2 linked regions of the Homo sapiens genome follow. The protein of the gene in region 2 binds, or shares a complex with, the protein of the main gene of each other region. Each region holds a gene or a part of one and is shown on either strand. Other genes may lie near its edges.

Region 1 (7,033 bases), on a different chromosome or scaffold from region 2:
GTAAGTTCCTCAAGGGGCCGGGCGCAGTGGAATCAAGGATAGGATCAAGTGTCTTACCCTTGTGGGCCTCAAAAGGGGGCAATCAGAGTTATCTAATACTTTATTATGTGTTAAGGGATAGTATGATGAACAGAAAAAGACAGACAAAGGGGACCCTGGAGACAGAGGAGGCCTGGCCTGTTTGTGTGCTGGGGGCCCAGGTGGAGGCGAGGGCTTACTTCTCAGAGGCTAAGATCATTTTGGACAGCATGGGGTCCACCGGCAGCTCTGCCATCTTTCGACCAGACTAAGGAGAAGAGAGAGAGAGTTGAGCCCAGTCCTCCCTCAGGTTTCCCGCTACTACTACAGGGGTCCCTGGAGCCATCCTGACCCCTATCATCCTGCCTCCACCCATGCTGTCCCCCGACTCACCGTGGTGAGCTCCCCAAGGTGGTTGAGGGCTCCCAGAGCATACAGCTGCTCCAAAGCCAGCAGCAGTGTCTCATATGGTGGAGGGTCCAGGAAATCAAAGTGCATTAGGTCATGGATCCCTAGAAAGAGGTGTGATGGATGGAACAGAGTCCCTTCAAAGGACAGTGACTCCAGCCCCTCCCTCCTCTCTCAGGTAGCCCAATCACCTAAGCTCTTGAGCAGCAACACGACATTGCCCAAGCTGGTCCTCTGGATCTCAGGCACTGTGGTTTCCTCAAGCTCGTGCTGATAGGCCCAGGCGGTATACAGGCGGAAGCACTTCCCTGCAGCCACCCGACCTGCCCTGCCAGCTCGCTGATTGGCTGAGGCCTGGAAAGAAAGGGGAACAGGCTGGCTGACAATTTGGTCAGGGAAAAGAAAAAGGCAGTATTTATGCAAGAAATCTGGAAGGATGCAAACTGCTCATCCCGGTTCCCTAGGAAGCCCCCACCCTGCTTCTGAGTTGGACCTTCTCTGTGGGCCAACTCCACCTCCCCCACTCCCATGCATCCCCAGGCTGACCTTGCTGCAGGGTGTGACAGTGAGCGATTCCATGCCTGTGCGGGGGTTGTAGCTCTTCTGCTTACAGAACCCTGGATCCAGCACATAAATGATGCCCTCAATGGTGAGTGATGTCTCAGCAATGTTCGTTGCCACAACCACCTGAGTGATAGGATATGGGGTCACCCAGTGACCCCACCTACCTAGTTACCCAGAAAAAGTAATCTTGGAAAGTTAGGAGTAGTGAAGCAGTTGCAGTAAGGGGCAGGAGCTGAGGGAATTAGTAGTATCCAAGGTCAGGAGCAGGGGACAAGGCCAGAAGACAGGGGACAGGGAAGTGGGGGCTGGGAGTCAGCAGGGCCATAGGAGGAAAGGAAATGGAGAAGAGGATTTAGGGTTTTTTTTTTTTTTCAGAGATGGGAAATGGGGGTGTTCAAGTTCCTGCCCGATCCTCCCCATCACCGCTTTCGTCTTCACACAACACTTCCTGTAAGAGCCTCCTAACGTGTATCCCTGCTTCTGCTCCTAGCCTCTGTCACATGGCATCCAGGATGGTCCTTTTAAAATACAAACCTGTCACATCACTCCCCATCCTTCAGTGGCTTCCTATCCTACTCTAGAATTCAATCCAAGCCCCTTAAAAGCCTGGATCACCTACCCCAGCTGCCTTTCTGACCTCATCTGCTAGCACTCCACCACCTCCCTCACTCCTCCCACACACTGCTTTGCTCTGCCCAAGTAAGTGCACTCCTCACTGGATCATTTGCATCAGCTATTCCCTCTGTCTGGCATACTCTTCTCCCAGATATCAGCCTGGCTCCCTCCCTCACCTGGTTTGGGTCTCTATTCCACTTTCCCCTTACTGAAGAGGCCCTCCCTACACCCCAAGGAAAATACCTTCATGCCAGTCCTCACTCCCACCCCACAGAGTCAAGTTCCATCCTACTATGCTGCCTTGTATCTCTTCATAGCACTGGCCACAAATTGACAATATGTATTTATGCATCCACTGCTTCCCCGATAGACCACAAGTGCAAGTTTGTTAGGCTAAGGACTTTGTTTTGTTCATCACTGTATCATCAACCCCTGTGTACCTGACACACAGAAGGAACTCATTAAATATTTGTTGAATGAAAGTTATATCTCTGCTCAAAATCCTTTGACTGCTACTCAGCTGTCTAAAGTCCAAACTTCGCCAAGCACAGTGGCTCATGCCTGTAACCCAGCACTTTGAGAGGCCAAGGCAGGCGGATCACTTGAGTCCAGGAGTTCAAGACCAGCCTGGCCAACATGGCGAAACCCCATCTCTACTAAAAATTAGCTGGGTGTTGGCCAGGCATGGTGGCTCACGCCTATAATCCCAGCACTTTGGGAGGCCAAGGTGGGCAGATCACCTGAGGTCAGGAGTTTGAGACCAACCTGGCCAAAATAGCGAAACCTCATCTCTACTAAAAATACAAAAAATTGGCCAGGCGTGGTGGAGGGCACCTGTAATCCCAGCTACTGGGGGGCTGAGACAGGAGAATCGCTTGAACCTGTGAGGCAGAGGTTGCAGTGAGCAGAGTTGGTGCCACTGCACTCCAGCCTGGGCGACAGAGTGAGACTCCATCTCAAAAAAAAAAAAAAAAAAATTAGCTTGGGGTGGTGGTACACACCTGTAATCCCAGCTACTTGGGAAGCTGAGGCACAAGAATCACTTGAGCCTGGGAGGTGGAGGCTGCAGTGAGCCGAGATCTTGCCACTGCACTCCAGCCTGGGCAACAGAGCGAGACTCTGTCTCAAAAAAGAAAAATAAATAAAGTCCAAACTTTCCTGTCATCAAAGGCCCTCCCTAATCTTAGCCCCAAATTGTTTTTAGCCTTGTCTCCTACTCCTTCACCACATGAACCTCCCACTAAGCCTACTAGCTCACACTCTGACCTCAAACATACCTTGGGCCTTCCTCTGATGACTTCTCAGCCATTTTTCTTTTTTGAGATGGAGTCTCGCATTGTCACCCAGGCTGGAGTGCAGTGGCACAATCTCAGCTCACTGCAACCTCCTCCTCCTGGGTTCAAGCGATTCTCATGACTCAGCCTCCTAAACAGGTGGGATTATAGGCGCACGCCACCATGCCCTGCTGATTTTTGTATTTTCAGTGGAGGCAGGGTTTCACCACGTTAGGCAGCCTGGTTTCGAACTACTGACCTCAAGTGATCCGCCCACCTCAGCCTCCGAAAGTCCTGGGATTACAGGCGTGAGCCACCGCACCTGACCTCAGACATTTCTCTTAAAGGTCCATATCAAATCCCACCTCTTAGCACATCAAGGACTTCCCTTCTCCACTGAATCTACTGTGCATACTTTCCAGATCACATATTTGGCTCTCTCTTGGTTCACACCATATTTCTCCTCTCTTCAGTCCCAGGAACAAGGGACTGGCTGCTCCTCAGCTGTGTGCAGCAGTGCGCAGGACTCACCTTGCATGGGGCAGGCACACAGCTTTTTCACTACTAGTTGTGGGAAGCATAGGGGTGAAGAGTGTGGGTTTCTCCAACTGACCTTTCGTGCCCCAGGTGGTGTGGGCTGGAAGATACGGGCCTGCATGTCAGAGGGCAGATTGGCATAAATGGGCAGCACCAGGAGCTCCCGGATTTTGGAGCCCAGGCGGCGGCAGCGATCCTGGAGCATCTCACAGGCAGCCTCAATCTCCTCCTGGATAGAGGGTAGGGAGAGCAGCAGGGGTCCCAGAGTCACAGAAGGCCAACATGCCGGCCCTGTCTTCCCCTGGGATACATCATCCCCTCTCCCCACCATGTCAGGCACCTGTCCTGTCAGGAACACCAGGATATCCCCAGGGGGCTGGGTCACATGGATCTGCAACACAGATACTACACAAGCTTCCAAGTAGTCAGCCTCTGGAGCCTGGAGAGCAGAAAGAGATGGGGTCACAGGAGGGCCACCTGCTTAGGCAAACCTTTCCTCTCCTCCCAATTCAACATACACTTTATCCTAGTTCCCCTTTGAACCTTCCATTCCATCTTTCCCTCCACAGGATAACCTTCTCCAAAGGCCTCAGCTTTTCTGCCACAGACTTAAGCCCATCCTCCCTGAGGGGGCACCTTGGTGTAGAAGATGTCCACAGGAAACCTGCGTCCGGGGATTCGAAACACAGGGGCGTCATCAAAGAAGGTGGAAAAACGGGCAGTGTCCATTGTGGCTGAAGCCACCAGGACCTTGAGCTCAGGTCGGAAGCGAGCAACATCCTTGATCAATCCAAAGAGAATGTCTGTGTGTAGGGTCCTTTCGTGTGCCTCATCCACCATCACCACGCTGGGGAGGGAATAGGAGAGCAATGAGGGAAGAGCGCTAGGCAATGCAGTATCAGACACCAGAGTTAACTGGATGAGAGGGGAGTAATGGACACAAAGAGTTCAAGAATGACTGTTGACGGAGGGGGCTCTAAGGAGAAGTCAGCCATCCCACTTATGTAGAGCAACAGAAAGTCAGAGAAGGCCAGGGCCCCATGATCTGCAACCTATCCCAGCCTCAGCAGATAATAGGAGACAAGATGTAGAGGCTGCACACTGAGGCCAGGACAAGTTAGCCATACCCTCTAGTTCAGTCAAGAGTCTGCTTAGACTCAGCAGCTGCTCTTACTAGAAAAAGTTGAAGGATATGTTTTAGGCTGGGCATGGTGGTAGCTCACGCCTGTAATCCCAGCACCTTGGGAGGCCGAGGCAGGTGGATCACAAGGTCAGGAGTTCGAGACCAGTCTGGCCAATACAGTGAAACCCCGTCTCTTCTAAAAATACAAAAAAAATTAGCCAGATGTGGTGGTAGACGCCTGTAGTCCCAGCTACTTGGGAGGCTGAGGCAGGAGAATCGCTTGAACCTGGGAGGCAGAGGTTGCAGTGAGCCAAGATCGTGCCACTGCACTCCAGCCTGGGTGACAGAGCGAGACTCCATCTAAAAAAAGAAAAAAGAAAAAGTGGAAGGATTTTTTTTTTGAGACAGTCTTGCTCTGTTGCAGGCTGGAGTGTAGTGGCATGATCTCAGCTCACTGCAAGCTCCGCCTCCTGGGTTCACACCATTCTCCTGCCTCAGCCTCCCAAGTAGCTGGGACTACAGGTGCCTGCCACTGTGCCTGGCTAATTTTTTGTATTTTTAGTAGAGACGGAGTTTTGAAACAGAGTCTCACTCTGTCGCCCAGGCTGGAGTACAGTGGCACGATCTCGGCTCACCGCAAGCTCCGCCTCCTGGGTTGCGTTCACGCCATTCTCCTGCCTCAGCCTCCTGAGTAGCTGGGACTACAGGTGCCCGCCACCACGCCCAGCTAATTTTTTATATTTTTTAGTAGAGACGGGGTTTCACCGTGTTAGCCAGGATGGTCTTGATCTCCTTACCTCGTGATCCGCCTGCCTCTGCCTCCCAAAGTGCTGGGATTACAGGCGTGAGCCACCGCTCCCGGCTGATACGTTTTAAAGGAAAAAAAAAGTGGAAGGCAGGGTCCCTTTCAATAAGGGTGGGCCAGCAAGGCTGACTGGGGGTAATAGACCTGAGCTGCTGTGATTCAAATAGCCTAGAAGCTCCTGGTGTCCTGTGGGACAACTGCTGCTGGCATCATTCTTGACTGTTTCTTCTTTTGGAGACAGGAGCAAGTTAAGCCTTTCTACCTCAACTCTCACAGGACTCTGCATGCTCCTTGGTTTCCTCCTAACTCAGTTATGTGCATGACACCTTCTTTCTCTTTGTTCTTTGGCTTTTCTGGGTGGCAGCCAAGTCCCAGGAACTCATCCCCATCTTCCCCTACCCACCTCCCTGACCTCAACTCTTTGTGCCTAACCCTAACTGTGATGGTGAAGTCCCCAGCCATTCCACAAAGCAGGCTGGCTCGATGGGCAAAAACATCTGCATCAGACACTCTTGCGCTGGCTGGCTCTCCATGGGTTCTTAGAGATCTTTTGCAAGGGATATGAAGGATAAAATCCTATCTGTCCAATTGCTCCACTGTGATCTTCCAAGACCAGAAATTCACAGCCTCTGAAGAGTCAAAAAGGCACATATTGTTCAGCTGGCCTGACCCCACCCCCATTACATTCATGAATCCCTTTTCCCCCTCAACACATGTTCAACCAACCCCTGCTTGGCCATTTCCAGCACTAAGAGCTCATTATTCACAGACCAAGCTACCCAAGACTTGTGTGGAGGGCCAAGACCCAGAGTCCAACCACTCTGACAGGCCCTGCAATCTCCACCACTCTGAGGGTTACTCAGCCATTGGTATTGAGTTGGAATCTGTCTCCCTGTAACCTCCCCATGGCTCCTAGCTATGTCGTGTAGGGTCACATAAAACAATCTGATCCTTCTTTCCATGTAACAGCCTTCACATATTTAGAGGGAACCAGGATGCTTCCTGTTTCTCCCTCTGAGCTGAGCATTCCAAGTGTTTTCAAATGGTCTTCACACGGTATTTCAAGTCTCGGCAGCAATGCTCTGCTATCCTGGTTGTTTTCTAAACCCTGGAGATGAATGGGGAAAGAAGAGGCTTTCTCTACAATCTCTTCTGTCCTCCAGCCCCATCTCCGTGGTACCTGGAGGTCAGTTCAAGGACCATTTGAACCACAAAGATTCAAGAACGGGTGGATTAATCAGAAGACAATGGCTGAATTGGCTGGGTGGGAAGAAGGGAGAGAAAGGCCAGAGATTAGAGATACCTGTAACTCGCCAGGTCAGGCTCAGAGAGGAACTCCCGGAGAAGCATCCCATCTGTCATGTAGCGGAGGACAGTTCGCTCTGATGTGCAGTCCTCAAAGCGGATGCTGTAGCCAACCTGGTCAAGGGAACCATTAGCAACCAAGTGTGGGCTGGTGTGCCCTGAAAGGAACTTGGGGAAAGGTGAAGTGGGGCAGCACCAAGACTTCTGCTGTAGGGACCTGAGGGAACTGTAGACTGAGTCACAGACCCCAGACTCTACCCCCCGGTTCCCTAGAAATCTCACCTCATTCCCAAGCTTCACACCCATCTCCCGGGCCACTCGGGCGGCCACACTCATGGCAGCCACTCTCCGGGGTTGGGTGCAGGCAATCTTCATACCCTTGTT
Region 2 (7,033 bases):
CTGTAGGATTAATACTTCTTATATGCCTGTTGTAACTTTCAGATGAAACCCAAATATGATGCTAATATCTTTTCCCCCATATAAGCAGAGATCTGGGTAGTAGGTAGGCAGTAGTGAAGATCCCTCACTCTTTTCTCTCTACAGCAGCACAAATGATGAGTGAAATTTACTTGTGTGGCAAACTCACATGGGTATACCTAGATTTTGAAGAATCCTAAAAAGATTTTAGGAGGGAAATAAAATGTCACAATTTTAGTGATACCATCATTACTAAGGGTTCAGTAGCTGCTGCTCACCAGGGCTGGCGAGTTGAGACTTATGTACCGTTTCTACCTTCTTTTGTCCCACCTGAGAAAGCTTACTGGAAAGCAATAAGTAGAAATGATATATATGGATGATCTAGAATCTACTTTAATTTACTGAATAAGTCACATTCACATTTTTATACTTCATTATTATTATTATTATTATTTTTGAGATGAGATCTTGCTATGTTGCCCCAGATGGTCTCGAACTCCTGGGATCAAGTGAACACCTTGCCTCAGCCTCCCAAGGAGCTGAGATTACAAGCGCATGCCACCATGCTTAGAACTATATTATTAATGATACATAATTTGTATCAAATTTCATAACTGATCTTAATACCTGAATATGCTATTTCACATGTGGAGTTGCTGACTTTTTACACTTCCATTCCTTTAGTAGACACCCTTAATTAGAAAATGTATTGTACAATAGTTGCAAAATCTAATTTTCTTGTGCGTTCAATTTCCTACAGCGTTTAGGTATTAGCTTCTGAAAGTAAGACAATCTCTAACTCCCAGAAAAAGGCTGACTGTTCGACAGCCATGGTATTAAGTAAACCACTAGAACCAGTTGGAAGAATAATTAAACCAGATTTATGCAGTTAATGATATCTCACCAAGGTCTAAATAATCAGTGACAACTCACTTCAGTAAATACACCTCTGAAAGCCAATTAACCAGTGATAGCCACATGCTTTTGAAAGTTGGCCTGTCGGCTGCAGACTGGCTCCAGTGAATATGCTTCTGAAAGCCAGCCAGTCAACAATAGTTTCTTTCAAATAATGGGGCTTCTGAGGGTGATAGCTGCCCCTAAACAATTCCTGACCCCAAAACACTATGTAAGATTTGCAGCCTGCTTTGCTTGGAGACACTGTGCCTAAAAGCACAGCTCCTCTTTACTTAAGTAATAAATTAAGCCTTTTTTTCTCCAGTCATTGAGAGGTAGCCTTTTTCTTCAACACTTCTTACAATCTTTGCTGCATCCCCCACAAAATGCACCCTTTAAAATTGTAATATTACCACTGATGAGAAGTAAGTGCAGAAGAATGGTAGGACTGTCCTGTTAAAGGTACTTTACCACACATCGGGGGCATCTAGACCCCTCTACTGCACTTCAGTACATGCTTAGCAGCAGCGTTCCAAGTGCTTACGGGCTGGCTGTGTTGATGTCTAAGCCAACACCAGTGTAGCTGGAATCATACGCCCTTTAAAACACTTTCATCAATACTCCTGGATTGATATGAGAAAACAAACTTACTGTCTTATTAATACCTCTTCATATACATATTCTTCTATTTAAAAAATTATCCTTTTCTCTGCCCAGAAATACAGATGGTTTTCTGTAATATCCATTTCTAGTAGGGATTCTCCATGTTTCAAAAATGACTTGATCAGAATTTGTCAATTAAGAATATAAAAAGGCACCTTTTTCCTTTCTATGCCATGAGAGAATCTTGCAACTATTGGATTTAGTCGGCTCTGGTATAAAAAATGAACTCTAGACACATGAATAACAGCATAAAGTCCACAAGAAGAAACAGATTTCCTTACAAATTTGAAAAAAAGCAGAGAGCCGTGAGTTAAAGGAGCTGTCTTTTTCAACTGTTTGTTTCATACACCACTGCACTAAGCAAGTCCAACATTTTGATTAATAACAAACCTAAACCCAGAGGAAAGAAAGGGCTATCAGCTTACAAACTACTTCAGCTTTAATATCATAATACTTAGCATGGCTAGTTACTTGGCAATAATATTTAACCTTTAATAGAAATACAAGCATAATCAAAATGCTTCATCCATTTATCTTTCAACATGCTTTGGTCACTTCATTGTGAAAAGCAAAACAAAACAGTTATTATGATTTTCAGCATAATAAATTCCTGACCTACTTGCCTCTATAAATCACAGACTGTACGAATTGAAAGCATGCCCGCACTTTACAGTCTCCTATGAGGATACACAATAAGATTTAGAATACGGACTCAATTTGAGTACAGGGGGTCTGATAGTTTACAATCATGTATGTCCCAATAACTCAATACTATCCACTCTGCGGCTCTTTATGGAATTGGCCCAAAAAAAGTAGTGAATTTTTTTGGAATTAATTACACACTGATCATTTACATATGAAAATTGTAGAGCTTGTTCACTTGAAGGCAAAGACAAAAATTTAGGTTTGATTAATAAAAAATTTCACATAGGCTCAGATTCTCAAATAACATTGACTTTATAGTGTGTTACAATATTATATATAGTGTATATATAAAATCTATGGTTATATATAATATATAGCTATATATTATACATATGGTATATAGTATATATAGTATATATACAGTATATACACTATATATAACTGATCTCTATGGTATATATTATATATATCATATATAATATGTAATCTATTATATATTGTAGTATATAGTATATATTATATATATAGTATGTTAAAATATGGAAGTTTACTATTTTCAGAGAGGTTGTGTTTGACAGGAAAGTGGTTTTTTTGTTATTGTTTTTGGTGTTTTTTTGGTATGGGGCTGTGTAAAATTACAAACAGAAGTAAACAACTGATTTTTCAAAAAGGACTAGACCTTGACTGACTTCACTAACTTCTTATCCAGTTTTTAAAGTTCTCCCACAATTGTGAAATAGACTAAGATACAATAGCTATTTGTATCAATGGGAAATATCAAGAGAGGAACTGATTCTCAGACACACAATAAGTAGTCTAATATAGAATTCCAACATTAGCAATTCATTTCCGATTTAAATGAATTTAAATTACTTATATAATATAAACAGCTATCTTTTTCATTGGGAAGTCTACAAACCTCTTCTTCCCACATCCAAGCCACCCTAACTTAGGAACTTATCACCCAACCCTACGATTGTTGCAGGTGTCCTAATTGTTGTACATCTGTACTATTTCCTTCCCAGATCCAAAGCTTAAAAAATAATATTTCTTCCACATTTCTTTTATAGCATTCTTTTGATCAGAAACTACTGGTTATCATATTAGACTGAAATAAATACCTCAGTCTACCCTTAAAAGTCCTCCAACAACTGGTGCTTCCTATCTCACCAACCTTATTTCATTTCTTTCATCAATTCTCCCCATTTTGTAATTGCCTGTTTACTTGATTGTGAACAGACTCAGTTGTTTGAGACAGTTTGAGTCTTGTTCACTGTTGCATTCCCGGTGCCAAACATGGTGATTTGTGTTGGGAATAAGGCCTTCAGACCCTTTGTACTGGTCAGGCCTGTTGGCTGGTACTAGAAGGCTTGCTAAGCTAAGAGTCAACTTCCTTTTGTGGGTAGAGACTGTCTTATATTTTGATGATAAACTCCCTAAAACATCTACCAGATTCTGCAGAAAGTCTCAGGCTCAGCATAAGTCTCTTTTCATTTCTCACAGCTCACCAAATACTGATAGTTGCTTTTCCACTCACTCATACTAGTGATTGCTAGTTTTTATTTCCTCAAAAGACTGCAGTGGGAACATGCCTTATGTTCTTATCCATCTCATATAGCACCTGATGTAGAACTAGAGAGAAGGGCCCCTTTTTTTATTTTTTATTTGTTTAAAGCAATGTTTCTCAAAGCATATTTCTAGAGCCCCTGCATCCGATGCAGGTTGCATGTTAAAATCACCAAGTAGCTTTAAAAACTATCAGTGCCAGGCTTCCAACTCCAAAGGTATTGATTTAATTGTTCTGGGATGGGGTCCCAGCATCAGTAACTTAAAAAAAATGTTCCTAGTTATTTTTAAATGCAGTCAAAGTAAAGGGCACAGAAATAAAGCTTAAGAGCTTTTATGCTTTCAGATTGATTGATTTCATTAGCCCTTTGTCCTTGCCCCTTCAGAGATGGAGAACAGCTGGTTCCTAATGACAAACTACTCAAAGAAACTCAAGTAGCCTCTGAGTCTATTATTTGAACTGAATAATCTCAAGTGCATTATTTATTTCTGATATATGTGATTTGAGGAAAAGGCAATGAGCTAGACTCAATTATTCATTCAAAAAACATCTGGGGGCTTTTAATGCATGCTGCCAACGCTGGACACTGGTAAAACAAAGCCAAATATGACCCAGGCCCTACTTCCATGAAGTAAACAATCTGTAAGAACATACAGACAGACACCACGATGTGGTAAACGCAGAGTTTGGAATTGCCTGCAAACTGTGAGACAACAAAAATAGCACTCGCTGATGCAGCACTCTACAAAAAGCTTTCCCATGTTGTCTGGTAGCATCTTTACAATAACTGAATGTGGTGGGGGGCAGGAAAAATATTATTATCACCCCTGTTTCATAGGCAGTCTCTGAGACTGAGGGTCGAGAAACTTGTAGCTGATAACTTCTTGACCAGATACTTTCTTCTATGTCTTCAGAGGTAACAAAACTTTCATCCTGTAAAGATGGATTTAACTTTGGGAATACATCAAAAGTCAATTCAGTGCTAGGTCTAGTAAGGAAGATAAGAAATCAGATAGAGTAGTGCTTATTTTGGAGTACAAAATTTAAAAAATGCAACCATAAAAAGACATGAATCCAGGTTGGACATTAAAGAAATTTCAAAAGAGAAATTCCAGAAATGTCTTGAGCAATGTGGGAGCATCTTTGGGAAAAGGCACAACTCTTTTAGGTGAATGCTTACTTACAAAAAAGAAAAAGCATTAATTCCCCCTATAAATTTTTATCTCCTTATTGCCTTTAATCAGTGCTATCTGAAATCTCAGTTCCAGTTTCTTCTAGTTCTTCCTAAAATAGGGATGCTAAGCAGGGACACCTCATTCAGCTGGAAGTCCAAAAGGAGCAGAACCAAGGGCCCACAGCCTGCCTCTGCAAGGGTGGATATCTGGCAATCTCCTCTCAGCCATCGAATTACTAAGGACTACCTTGTGGTCCATAATACTCAGGTCTTTTATATTTTTCAAAAATGCAAATGTAGCCATGAAAACTCTTCTGTTTTAAATGCTTTGGTGGCTCTCCATTGTCTACACAAGGAAACCCAAAATTCCCAATGTGGCTTCTATAATCTGGCTTTTGCTTCCCTCTCCAGCCTGTTACATCTCCTTCTCCCATCACATCTATGCTCCAGACATCCCAGTTCTTTGAAGTTTCCTGAACAAACGCCTGCACTCTCCTTCTTCCTCGCTGCCTCTATATACACTATACACTTCTGTCTCTCAGTTAGCTGAGTGTTATCTCCATCTTAGAAATGGTTCCTGATTCCTTTCCTGATCTGACCTGCTGTTTCTCCCCCAGGGTTAAGACCCTCTTCTGGTCTTGCAGAGAATCTTGAATATCTCTCTGGTTTAGTCTTCCTCATACTACAGTGTAACTGCTGTCTCCCTTACTAGGCTGCAGGTGCTCTTGAAGGTGGCGGCTCTGCTTTTTTGTTGAGATGGGGTTTTGCTATGTTGCCCAGGCTGGAATGCAGTGGCTATTCAAGTAATCATAGCACACTATAGCCCTGAACTGCTGGGCTCAAGTGATCCTCCTGCCTCTGCCTCCCAAGCAGCTGGGACTATAGACATGTGCCACCACACCTGGCTCTATGGTGGCTCTGTTATTCGCCTTTGTACCAATTGGCCTTTGTACTAGCCAGCAATGCTTGCCAAGAAGAATGCCCTCAATAAATGTGTGCTGAATAAATAAATGTTTCTGAGTAGCCAGCCACCTCCAAAACCTTTGACTAGAGTTCTGGTTTTGTTCACCTTGCTCCTTGATAGTATTAATACATAATTCCAAATCATTGAGCAATTATGTTTATAAACTCTTACATGATAATGCCAGAGAAAAGGGTAATAAGTTACTCGAACAGCTGAAACAAGGTATTTCTACTACTACTAACTTTATGATATGAAAATCCAACACTTATCTTTCTCAAATGGACCAGTTAAACTGCTTGAAGATTGACATCTGTCTAGTGTATGATTAGCCTTTGAGGTGGGAGAAAGTACATATATTGTCCTCGGACAGCCTTCCCCATGTGGGTTAAAAGACCTTGCCATTCTTTATGAAATTTTGCCATACACAAAATTTGTCTCTGTACTGTGTTAGTGTACTGTGTTGACAGCTTCTAATTTCTCTGTTAAGTTAGAATTCTAAGAAACCTAACAAAATAGCTCCTAGTTATTACTAAGATTGTCATTCTATGGGACTGTGGATTACAAACTTTAATGAATCTGATTTAAGTTTTTTAGGGGTAGGGTTGAAAGGAGACTTGTATTTAAAAAGCAAAACCAGCCTTTTTATTTTTAAAGAAAAATCTCAGCAAGACCAAACAATTTTCAAGTTTTGCCCACATCTGATCCTTTGAAAGGACCTGCTCTGTATCATAGGTGGGCTGCAGCATACTTTTGTCCACATCACTTCTCTGGGACGCCCTTCCGCCTCCTTCCCACTGGTGTATGTCCCTGTTTTTTTCAAAGCCCAGTTTAATTCCCATTTCCTCCTAAAATTCTTTTCTGACTGCCCTGGGCCTCAGGATTTGTTCCTGCCTTTGAATTTCTTTAACACCTTCTATGAAACCTCTGTGGTATGCACTCAGAAGCCCTGAGTTTGATTTGAGTTACATTCAGTCACTATTACTGGAGAAAGTCACATTGCTTCTCAGGCCTCTGTTTCCTCACCTGTGGAGAGGGGTGGTAATGTGCAACCTATTTACCTCACGTGGCCTGAGGATCAAACATCATGGATTTGAAAGGGCTCTGCAAA

Evidence for each region. The genes of interacting proteins can lie anywhere in the genome.
Region 1: CWC27 (region 2) and DHX16 share a complex: the UniProt entries of both Homo sapiens proteins name them as parts of the minor spliceosome.

Annotation. Positions count from the first base shown.
Region 1 is NC_000006.12:30,655,980-30,663,012, forward strand, and holds part of DHX16 (pre-mRNA-splicing factor ATP-dependent RNA helicase DHX16), read right to left. Parts: coding exon 6,932-7,033; intron 6,764-6,931; coding exon 6,648-6,763; intron 6,453-6,647; exon of another isoform or gene 5,878-6,452; coding exon of another isoform or gene 5,777-5,877; intron 4,639-5,776; exon of another isoform or gene 4,591-4,638; intron 4,264-4,590; coding exon 4,053-4,263; intron 3,856-4,052; coding exon 3,757-3,855; intron 3,646-3,756; coding exon 3,493-3,645; intron 1,114-3,492; coding exon 973-1,113; intron 781-972; coding exon 618-780; intron 531-617; coding exon 412-530; intron 287-411; coding exon 219-286; intron 1-218. UniProt on the Homo sapiens protein: Required for pre-mRNA splicing as a component of the spliceosome. Contributes to pre-mRNA splicing after spliceosome formation and prior to the first transesterification reaction.
Region 2 is NC_000005.10:65,009,912-65,016,944, reverse strand, and holds part of CWC27 (spliceosome-associated protein CWC27 homolog), read right to left. Parts: intron 1-7,033. UniProt on the Homo sapiens protein: As part of the spliceosome, plays a role in pre-mRNA splicing. Probable inactive PPIase with no peptidyl-prolyl cis-trans isomerase activity. As a component of the minor spliceosome, involved in the splicing of U12-type introns in pre-mRNAs.